Homo sapiens: one gene and its partners. The protein of the gene in region 3 purifies or fractionates together with the protein of the main gene of each other region. This does not show direct contact. Each region holds a gene or a part of one and is shown on either strand. Other genes may lie near its edges.

Region 1 (3,648 bases), on a different chromosome or scaffold from region 3:
CCACATCTCTCTGTCCCCTGATATGGCTGCCTTCTTCCTTCAGTTCCCGATGTGTCCTATTGGGGAGCAGTGAGGGGCAGTGCAGCCTCCTCTGTTATTTCTGAAGCCACTTCCCCCCCAGGTGCATGTCCTGTGTTGGCAGCCCTTACCCCTGCCACTGGTGTAAGTACCGCCACACGTGTACCAGCCGCCCCCACGAGTGCTCCTTCCAGGAGGGCAGGGTCCACAGCCCTGAGGTGAGGCGGGCGCCGCATGTGAGGGGCTGGGCTCTGTGGTGCGGGCGGGGCCACCGGCTTCTATGCGTTCTCGGTTTCTTTGAGCCTTCTCCAGGTTGGGCCTGGAGAAGGGTGGCCCTGTGTGCAGCTGACAGGTGCTTTCCCCGCAGGGCTGCCCTGAGATCCTGCCCAGTGGGGACCTCCTGATCCCCGTTGGGGTCATGCAGCCTCTTACCTTGCGGGCTAAGAACCTACCTCAGCCGCAGTCGGGCCAGAAGAACTATGAGTGCGTGGTGCGGGTGCAGGGGCGGCAGCAGCGGGTGCCTGCCGTGCGCTTCAACAGCAGCAGTGTGCAGTGCCAGAACGCCTCGGTGAGGTCCCACCCGCTGCCTCCCTTCGGGGTCTGGGCTGTGGCGTGGTGTGGATCGTTCTTGTCTATGCCCAGCTCTCTGGCAGGGAACTGTCTGAGTCTCCTGCTAGGGATTCCTGTACCTGGAGGAGGGGGGCAGCTGGCAAAAATCTTGGGTAGGGGTTCTGCACATCTTATCTGGGGTCCCATGGGTTCCTTTCCTCCAGTACTCCTATGAAGGTGATGAGCATGGTGACACCGAGCTGGACTTTTCCGTGGTCTGGGATGGAGACTTCCCCATAGACAAGCCTCCCAGCTTCCGAGGTGAAGGCATGGGCCAGGGAGCTTCCCTCCTAAGGCAATTGGCACTGCTGGGGTCGGGTCTGGGGGCCCTAGTGCTCCCCACTTTCCACTTTTCTGCCACTGCCTGCTCCGTCAGCAGTGCCTTCTGTGCCTGCAGCCCTCCTGTACAAGTGCTGGGCGCAGCGGCCCAGCTGTGGCCTCTGCCTCAAGGCTGATCCCCGCTTCAACTGTGGCTGGTGCATCTCAGAGCACAGGTGCCAGCTGCGGACCCACTGCCCGGCCCCGAAGACCAACTGGATGCACCTGAGCCAGAAGGGCACCCGGTGCAGCCACCCCCGCATCACGCAGGTCAGCCTCCCTCACCGCCCCTGCCCACTGCCAACAGGGCCCCTGGGAGTCTGAGCCAACTCTCTCACTGCCCATCCTGCTCCACAGATCCACCCTCTCGTGGGGCCCAAGGAAGGAGGCACCCGGGTCACCATCGTGGGTGAGAACCTGGGCCTCTTGTCCCGAGAGGTGGGCCTGCGGGTGGCTGGCGTGCGTTGCAACTCCATTCCGGCCGAGTACATCAGTGCTGAGAGGTGAGTGCGGCTCTGTGGGTGCCCGGGCCGTATGTGGCCTGGCCGGCCCTGACGCTCTCTGAGCCCTAGGATCGTGTGTGAGATGGAGGAGTCGCTGGTGCCCAGCCCGCCGCCGGGGCCCGTGGAGCTGTGTGTGGGTGACTGTTCAGCCGACTTCCGCACGCAGTCGGAGCAGGTCTACAGCTTTGTGGTGCGTGGCTGCCGGCCCTACCCCTTCCTGTCCCTTCTCTCTCCCGCAAGGGGCGTGTGGAGCAGCCCGGCCCGGCTCCTCCCCTCAGGGCAGCTTCTCCCGCAGACCCCAACGTTTGACCAAGTGAGTCCCAGCCGTGGCCCGGCGTCCGGGGGCACACGGCTTACCATCTCAGGCAGCTCTCTGGATGCTGGCAGCAGGGTCACAGTGACTGTGAGGGACAGCGAGTGCCAGTTTGTAAGGTGGGCCGGGGCCCTGCCAGCTTTGGGTTGGGCATCGTGTGGGGGGCCGTGGGGACGGGTGGCTGAGGGCCCTGGGCCACCCGCTCCAAGCACCCTGCTTGCCAATGTAGGAGAGATGCCAAGGCGATCGTGTGCATCTCACCTCTCTCCACCCTGGGCCCCAGCCAGGCCCCCATCACACTTGCCATTGACCGGGCTAACATCTCCAGCCCCGGGCTCATCTACACCTACACTCAGGACCCCACCGTCACCCGCCTTGAGCCCACCTGGAGCATCATCAAGTAAGACCCTGGGGGACTGGGGAGCCTGGCAGTGTCCAGAGGGCTCAGGGACTGGGTGGTCTCTGAGCTCCGGTGGGGCCCCTCCTGGAGCCTAGGCCCTCATTGGTGGAGGGGGTGGAGCTGTCCTGGCTGCACAGTACCCGGCACCCACTAGGCGATCCAGGGTCAGGGAAGGCCTGGGCTGCCATGGCAGCCTTGATCGCTCTCCAGGGCTGGGTGGGTGCACTGGAGGAGGGAGCCTGAGGCCCCTGCCCTGTCCCTAGTGGAAGCACTGCCATCACTGTGAGTGGGACCCACCTGCTGACGGTCCAGGAGCCCCGGGTCCGTGCCAAGTACCGCGGCATTGAGACCACCAATGTGAGTACCAGCTGCCCCGCCCCACCCCGACCCTGCAGCCCATGGCTTCACGTGCCTGGCTGTCCACCTTTGTCCCCACAGACATGCCAAGTGATCAACGACACTGCCATGCTGTGTAAGGCCCCCGGCATCTTTCTTGGGCGGCCCCAGCCTCGGGCGCAAGGCGAGCACCCTGATGAGTTTGGCTTCCTGCTGGACCACGTGCAAACGGCCCGCTCCCTCAACCGCTCCTCCTTTACCTACTACCCTGATCCCAGCTTTGAGCCGCTGGGGCCCTCTGGCGTGCTGGACGTCAAACCGGGCTCCCACGTGGTGCTGAAGGTGCGGGCGGGGTGGGGGCGGGGAGGGGCGGGAAAGTGGAGAGTCCTGGGCTGAAGTTGTCCTCCACCCCCAGGGCAAGAACCTGATTCCCGCTGCAGCCGGCAGCTCCCGCCTCAACTACACTGTGCTGATAGGAGGCCAGCCGTGTTCGCTCACTGTCTCGGACACACAACTCCTGTGCGACTCACCCAGCCAGACTGGCCGGCAGCCTGTCATGGTAGGTGGGGATGGGGAGACCCCCTGGGCAGCCCAGGGTGGGCGTGGTGGTCAGCTCACCTCAGGCCTGTCCCCACAGGTGCTGGTGGGTGGCCTGGAGTTCTGGCTGGGCACCCTGCACATCTCGGCAGAGCGGGCGCTGACCCTACCGGCCATGATGGGGCTGGCGGCGGGGGGTGGGCTCCTGCTGCTGGCCATCACAGCCGTGCTGGTGGCCTACAAGCGCAAGACTCAGGACGCGGACCGTACCCTCAAGCGTCTGCAGCTGCAGATGGACAACCTGGAGTCCCGTGTGGCCCTGGAGTGCAAGGAAGGTGCCTGAGGCGGGGCGGGATGTGGTGTGGAAGCTGGGGACCTCCCTCCTGCCCACTCATTCCCTCTCTCCACCCCCCAGCTTTTGCAGAGCTGCAGACGGACATCAATGAGCTGACTAACCACATGGACGAGGTGCAGATCCCCTTCCTGGACTACCGGACTTACGCCGTGCGCGTGCTCTTCCCGGGCATCGAGGCCCACCCGGTGCTCAAGGAGCTGGATGTGAGCCTCTGCCTGGCCTGCCCCCCACCATTCCCTTCAGGGCCGCCCCCACCCTC
Region 2 (3,648 bases), on a different chromosome or scaffold from region 3:
ACAATGCCCTGTAAATAATACAGGCATTTGAGAAACTCATTAACTTTTAGAATGAAAAGGTACAGTTTATTATCTCAAATAAATCTACTAGAAAAATCTCAGTGGGAACATGTGTTCATAAGCATATAAAACCACACCAGAATAAGGAATACCTGAAAGAGTACTGCACATCATTCTTCAAAATACTCCCTGCTCAAAAACTATAAATAACATTCTGAAATGAAAACAGCCCTTCACAATGATAATCTAATAGACTTCCAATAATAATAATATACTTATCTATGTCCACATACTATATATAACACATGCACACATGCCATGTCTGTGCATGCAACCAAACTAACTGGCACAAAGCAAACTTTGTAAACAAAAAACGCATTTCAAAAGAACCACTACAAATAGCCCAGAGGAAAAAGAACTCCACAAAGAAAGTCAAGCCAGTGTCAAATGAGAAATTATGGCAAATTAAAGGATATTTTGAGTAATACCTTATGTCGAGCACCAAAAACCACTAAAAAGATGTTTTTCATGTAAAACAAAATAGTGACACTAGTAAGGACATCTGTGTGCAGAGGAATCCATGACAGAAAAAAATGCTTGGATGGTAGAAAAAAAATTATCACATGCTATGCATCTTTTTGAAAGGTAGAGTATTGAAAATAAAACATAAAATATTTTCCTACACTTATACTGTGTCATTCAAGTTGCTGCAACTCAAGACAAATATACAGCAGGAACTGGAAGGAAAGAAAAGGCAATCAGGACAGGACATTCCTTTTTTTTTTTTTTTTTTTTTTTTTAGACAGGGTCTCACTCTGACACCTAGGCTGGAGTGTAGTGGTGTGATCTCAGCTCACTGCGGCCTCGACCTCCTGAACTCAAGTGATCCTCCCACCTCAGCCTCCTGAGTAGCTGGGACTATAGACATGCATCACCATACCCAGCTAATTTTTATTTTTTGTAGAGACAAGGTTTCACTATGTTGTCCAGGCTGGTCTCGAACTCCTGGACTCAAGTGATCCTCCTGCCTTGGCCTCCCAAAGTGCTGGGATTACAGGCATGGGACACCGCGTCCAGCTCCTTTTCATCATATACTTCTTCTTCAATCAAGTGACTGAAGAAGAGAGACATCACCCAGATGAAAACCAAAGGGAGCTGGCAGAAGGGGAGTGTTCTAGCTCGGAAAAGATGATGACCTAGAGAGAACAAGGATGATTTGTGTAACATTTTAAATGACTCAGTTAAGGTAAAGACACACCTTGATTACCAAATCTTTTAGAAGCTACTTCTAAAATCTGATTTTAGCTACCTTTAGGAAGGTGACTCTGCCAGAGAAGATCTGAGGATTCAAAATGAGCTTGGATAAATTCAAGAATGGCTAAGATAAGCTGAGATTAATCCCTATCCTTTACAGTTGACGTCAGAGAGAACAAGTGTGCCCTCATGGCCTCCAGTGGCTGTATATATTTGAAATGCTGTGGGTGTACAGGCCATTTCTGTTTCCATGTTATATGAAATATATCGATATATTATTTATTAATTATAACTCTAATGGCCATATTAGAAAAGCCTACAGGTCGTATATTTCTAATCACCTTATTGCCTCACGACAAAATTCAGCCATGTGATTGTCCTCATCTATACGAGAAAATCTGGATTTACTCTTCATCAAGGCCCTGATAGAATTTTTAATATGTAGTACCAGAACTAGAAATCAACAATTTAGCAAAATTGTTTTGAGTGGCTATTTCCAGAGGTAGGATTAAAAGTAACTTGAATAAAGTCCTGCAACAAGCCCTACACTTCCTAGTAAATGGGATCTGATGTTGAGGTTAAATTGAGAGATTCAATCTGAGGTTAGAAAACTCACTACAACAATAGGTATGTGTATGGCTTCTGCTAATGTGGGATACCTAATAAAAAACAAGGATGGTGAACAGAATACCAAGGGATTTACTGTTGGCTCAATCAATAAAAAGAATTTAAGTTTCACATAGAGAACAGAGTTTCTTAAAGTGCCATTGATTCCATCATTGAAATGAAATTGCAATAGAGCATGCTTTCCTTAAAACCATTACATTTACTTACTAGCTTAAATTAACCAACTCCCTACTTTGATGGAAGTTACCACCTCACTTTCATTATTGGACATAAACTAGTGGTAATAACCTCCCAGAGAAGAACCTCTGTTCACTGACCTGAAGCTAAACATATATACCTGTTAATTGTGCTATTTGGGGCAGAACAGAGGGGATTCTGTGTGTAATTAAAGATAAAATCACTTATACTCATTAAAATTAACCATTTAACTATATTCTCCTCACATACTATAACTATTACTTAATCAGAAAACTACTTCCCAGGCAGTCTATTGACCATATGGCATAGTGGTCTTTTCAGTATTACAGAAATGCTCATTCAAAGCAGGAATGTTTCCCAGGGAAGTGGTGGACCCACATAAAGGGACTTTGGAGGCCCCATGTCCTAATCACCTTTTAGTGTACTGTATATATACAATATATATAAATAACAAATCATATCTCTTCCAAAAATCAAAATTGACTTTTACATTAAAAAAGAATTACCAAGGAATTCGGCAAACCTTACTTCTGGTAGTGGGCTGGCTGGTTTGGTTAGGATTCCTCCTACATAAACAACATTAGGCAGAGTGGGTCTTGGGAATTCCAGTGCTACGTCAGTACACAGCATCCACAGGCTGGACCCATGAACCAAATCATACATGGACTTCTCTGGCAGCAGGTTGTACTTCTGCATTATCCTTTCATATTTGGGAAGAACCAGAAAGCTGACCCCTAATCTGGAAATGAGGTAAACACCGGTATTTTTCATCCTTTGCAGCAAGTTCATGCGGTCTGTGAGGAGTGAGTTAAACTCTGGGACGTATGCTAATGGAGCAGGAGCACCCACTTCAGCAGGATACCAAAGGCCAGTTGAAAATACAGCATATTTAACCCCTAAAAGATGAGCTATCACAAATCCACACATATCATTAGGGTCCACCAGCAGCAGGTCAAATTTTTCTTTCTTCAGACCCTGGATCAGGGCATGGTTGCCAACCATCAGGTCACAGTTCTTAGTATAGTGATCCAGTATGTCAAACAGTTCGATTGCTGTCAATCTCCCAGAGAAAATATTCCGCATCTTGGACTGTAGGAAAGCATCTGAGGTGGTACTGTTAAAGATCCCTGGGTAGCGCTGGAGGCTGTAATGATTAGATGGGGCGATGTCTCTGCCTTCAGAGAGGAGGAACACTGTATGGTGGCCTCTCTCGTGCAAGGCTGAGGCTAGCGTCTTGAAAATGTACATATGGCTTTCAAACATAATTGGCGGCACGATGATGATTTTGGCAGCCTTCGCTATCCCAACAGCACTCCACAGGAGAATGAAATATGGAGTGTAAGACTTCATAGCTGTAATAACAACCAGAAAACAACTTAAAACAAAATACAATGCTCACCATTCAAAACAAGCAATCACAAAGCATTTTTCCCCAAAAATATCTGATCTAATACTTTGTCTAAAAAAAAAATCATGAACAGACACTTCTCAAAAGAAGACATTTATGCAGCCAAAAAACACATGAAAAAATGCTCACCATCACTGGCCATCAGAGAAATGCAAATCAAA
Region 3 (3,748 bases):
GTGGTCCCTCTGCAGCCACCACAAGGCTCAGGTTGCCCTCCAAAGTGCCATCATCTGTAACAGTCTGCTGAGTGAGGAAACTCACTGGTTAGCAGTTTGTGGCTACACATGCAACTTGGCTGGGACAGGGTCTTCATGCAGCAGTTACAAATCCTTTCCAGACTGAGGACCCTGGCACTGGGTGTGGCACTTGCCTTCTAAAGCAGGTACTCAGTGTGTGAAGTCTGAGTTAATCTGCTTCTCTCTTCCATGGTGCCTAGTAAGGTGTTAGCACTCCTCATGCTCCACCATGGGCATCATGCAAGAGCCATGTGGGGCCAAGAGAAATGAATGAGGGACACCAAAAGAATAGCTAGAGATTGGAAACTCTTGTGTATGCTCAAGGGAAAGCAGCTTGAGGTAGGACCCTGACATTCTCCTCTCCTTTCCCAAGCTACCTGCTCCCAGCGATGACACCTAGATGACCAGGCTCTGTGTCTAGGTCCCCACATTGCTGGAAACCTGTTGCTTTTGAACCTGTTGTGCTAATGAGATAGGAACAGGGCAGACTGAAGAGGAAATGTGGGTCTGATGTCATCTGAGAGGGAAACTAAAGGTATGGAAGGTAAGAGACTAGGGGTGGCCTGGGTACCCTACCCTGGTTACCTATAGCCAATGCATGACATACTCCTGTGAGCAGTGGGCATCTTCCTGAGTGTCACCCTTGGACAGAGAAACCTTAGAATCTTTCTTGGCCTGGAAGAGTCACATACAGCCCTCACATTGCTGTTGGGCCTACTGGGGTTGGCAACTGTAAACAGAAGAAAGAAAGGAGTATAAAAGCCAACATCATCAGATCCAGTGAACTGATGGGAAAGACCCCAACTATGACACTCAACAGAGTTACCTCCTGACCACCATCCATCCCAGACCTCTCTGTCCCCTCAAAACAGTTTCCTTGGGCCCACTTCATCCCATCAGTTCCTAGGTTGCAGAGGAGCAGGCACCCTGGCTCATCCACAGGCAGCCTCAGGCCTCAGACAAAGAGCCACAGTGTTTTGGAGAAGCTGACCCAACTGCCCACTGCCTGGGCAAGCTGGCTGGTTCCTGGCTCTGGCCAGGAGAGAAGACGAATGGAGCGGCCCACTGCCAACAGAGCATTTTTCCATGCACAGCCCTGGGCTGTTGCAGGACCAAGGTGGCTGTCTGGAGGGCTGGCACAGTGAGCCTCTGTCTCCGTTTCTCCTTCTTTCAGACTGGGCACCTTGGCAGACAAGAGCCACCTTCCCCTTCAGACTCAGCTTTCTAGGGGCTGTGCACCCTGCCCACTTCAGCCTCTTCTTAGAGCCATGGGTGCTGAAAGGGTTTGATGGGGAGCTTATGCCTCTCCTTACCCCATCCCATCTCTTAGCAATGTTGCTTCAGGGTTGCATAGTCTTACACTGTTTCCCATAATGCTAGAGGCCCTCCTGTGCTCAGAGTTTCTGTAAGGTCGAAAGTTTCCAGGACTGCCACACTATCAGCTGGGGGAAGTTTACTCAGGAGCTACTGCTGTTCTTTCATTTCTCCACTCTAGAGAAAGATCTCTCCCTCCTATCAGTGGAGAAGGTCAAGCCAGAGGCCATCCCCTCACCTGGATTGCATCCCCACCCCAATCCACAGCTCCCTGGACATGGCCAGTTCTCAATGCTTCTTTTTATTCTCTCCTTTCCACTCCAAACACACACACACACACACACACACACACATTCTACACAAAAGTTTCCCCCTCTCCCATAATAGCATTTATGTACCAAACCCCTCTATAAGAGAGATTGCAGGGACATCCAGGTCTTGGAATACCCTTCAAAATGCCCACACTCCCAGCATGATGGGATTTATGAGTAGCAGGGAAGAAGCTTCCCTAGACAGAGGGTCCTTCACTTTTTCATGCCTGAGAATTGGAGGTCCCCTCAGCACCCATAAAGGAACTGTAAGAGAAAGGTACAGGGCTGGAACCCCTCCCTTATACACCCTCTCTGCCACTCTCCAGCATCCCTGGGGTCATGGCCCAGATGTGGAGAAGGAGGAATGAACCCTCCCTGCCTCCCCATCTCCCCTATCCCCTACCACTTTTCCTTTATTTCTTTTAAGGAACTGCTAGGGACAAACCCGAAGTAAAACGACTATACTTACCTCAAGTTGAACTTTTCAGAGAGTGACCACGTCCCTCTGTCTGGCCTCCTTGGGTTGGAGAACGTGTGAGAGAGGAAGAGAGAGAGGAGTGAAAGAGTCTACTGAGAGTGTGCGTGCCTGTGCCAGACCAGGGTCCCGCCCCAAATTCCTAATCAAATATTGTGAAAAGGGGCTGAGGAACCCGGATCCTGGTTTTTTTCAGCTCTGCTGCAGGGGCGGAGTTCACGCTCAACCACGCAAATCCTTCGGTCCGCCTGACGCTATAAAAACCACCTTTTTTCCACTCACTTATCTTCCCTGAAACATTGGCAGCCCTGGGTCCCTTTCTGCTGAATGAGTTAGTGGCGCCCTAGAAGTTATTTGTACAGTCTCTTATGAAGCGCCTGGATTTCTCATTAAAGCCACAAAGGCAGATGCAGGGATGGGGAGGGCCAGGGTTTGGTAAGAGACATCTTAACTCCTTCAGCAACCCACATGTCCCTCCAGAGAGCGAGAACTCGCGCTTCTCAGCTCCCCCTATAGACAGGTCATCAGGCTAGTGGATAAGGGAGCATGAATGACAAGGGACAGCCGGCTCTGGTTCCAGTTCTATCCCTAAGCAGTGTAGACTTTTCTAGGCTACAGGTCCTGCCCACCTCCACCACTGGAACAAAAGGAAAGGCAGGGACTCCAGCATTTGCTGATCACTGCTTATGCACTAGCATCATCCACTTCCACTTAATGCTCACAACAAATTCAGAGTTAATAACACTTACCTTGCTGGGTTGTAGCAAGGACTGTATCAGGTGATGTGTGGGAGGCTCCTGACCTGGCACATAGCTGAGGTTCACTGTGTCCTACCCATTTCACAGCCATAGAATTCCTCAGCCAGGGAAAGACAAGATCAGAAAGCTGGGCAGGAGCTGTACCATGAAAGGACTTTTGGGCGATGGAAGTGATTTGGTTTTTATTCTAAATGTTTTTGTTGTTGTTGTTGTTGTTTGTTTGTTTGAGAAGGAGTCTCAGCTGGGCGTGGTGGCTCATGCCTGTAATCCCAGCACTTTGGGAGGCCGAGGCAGGAGGATCATGAGGTCAGGAGATCGAAAAGGAGTCTCGCTGTGTCGCCCAGGCTGGAGTGCAGTGGCACAATCTCTGCTTTCTGCAACCTCCGCCTCCCAGGTTCAAGCCGTTCTCCTGCCTCAGCCTCCTGGGTAGCTGGGACTACAGGCACACGCCACCACGCCCAGCTAATTTTTTGTATTTTTAGTAGAGACAGGGTTTCATCATATTGGTCAGGCTGGTCTTGAACTCCTAAACACAGGTGATCCACCCACCTCAGTGCCCCAAAGTGCTGGGATTACAGGCGTGCGTCATCCGGTCCGGCCTATTCTAAATGTTTAAAAAAAAAAACATGTTTCAAGCAGGAGAAGCCATGGGATCTGATTTGCATGGGATCTAATTTACATTTTAAAAGCATGTAGGAGGGGCTGCTGTATGGAGAAGGGGAGGCCAGGGTGGAAGCAGGGAGGCTCCAACCCAGCCTCAAGGAGAGGTAATGGCAGATTGGACTGGTGCAATGGAAGAGAAGATCTTATATTTTAGACAGAGAACTGAC

What was found.
Region 1: the proteins of FMOD (region 3) and PLXNA3 purify together in Homo sapiens (affinity purification with mass spectrometry; one large-scale study listed by BioGRID and IntAct). This does not show direct contact.
Region 2: the proteins of FMOD (region 3) and UGT8 purify together in Homo sapiens (affinity purification with mass spectrometry; one large-scale study listed by BioGRID and IntAct). This does not show direct contact.

The regions. Positions count from the first base shown.
Region 1 is NC_000023.11:154,464,633-154,468,280, forward strand, and holds part of PLXNA3 (plexin-A3 precursor), read left to right. Parts: intron 1-121; coding exon 122-236; intron 237-385; coding exon 386-586; intron 587-791; coding exon 792-888; intron 889-1,024; coding exon 1,025-1,215; intron 1,216-1,302; coding exon 1,303-1,448; intron 1,449-1,517; coding exon 1,518-1,638; intron 1,639-1,743; coding exon 1,744-1,880; intron 1,881-1,990; coding exon 1,991-2,161; intron 2,162-2,424; coding exon 2,425-2,518; intron 2,519-2,599; coding exon 2,600-2,839; intron 2,840-2,912; coding exon 2,913-3,056; intron 3,057-3,134; coding exon 3,135-3,369; intron 3,370-3,449; coding exon 3,450-3,592; intron 3,593-3,648. UniProt on the Homo sapiens protein: Coreceptor for SEMA3A and SEMA3F. Necessary for signaling by class 3 semaphorins and subsequent remodeling of the cytoskeleton. Plays a role in axon guidance in the developing nervous system.
Region 2 is NC_000004.12:114,622,662-114,626,309, reverse strand, and holds part of UGT8 (2-hydroxyacylsphingosine 1-beta-galactosyltransferase precursor), read right to left. Parts: exon of another isoform or gene 3,432-3,648; 5' UTR 3,430-3,431; coding exon 2,608-3,429; intron 1-2,607. UniProt on the Homo sapiens protein: Catalyzes the transfer of galactose to ceramide, a key enzymatic step in the biosynthesis of galactocerebrosides, which are abundant sphingolipids of the myelin membrane of the central nervous system and peripheral nervous system.
Region 3 is NC_000001.11:203,348,879-203,352,626, forward strand, and holds the start of FMOD (fibromodulin precursor), read right to left. Parts: upstream 2,245-3,748; 5' UTR 2,155-2,244; intron 379-2,154; exon of another isoform or gene 368-378; intron 1-367. UniProt on the Homo sapiens protein: Affects the rate of fibrils formation. May have a primary role in collagen fibrillogenesis.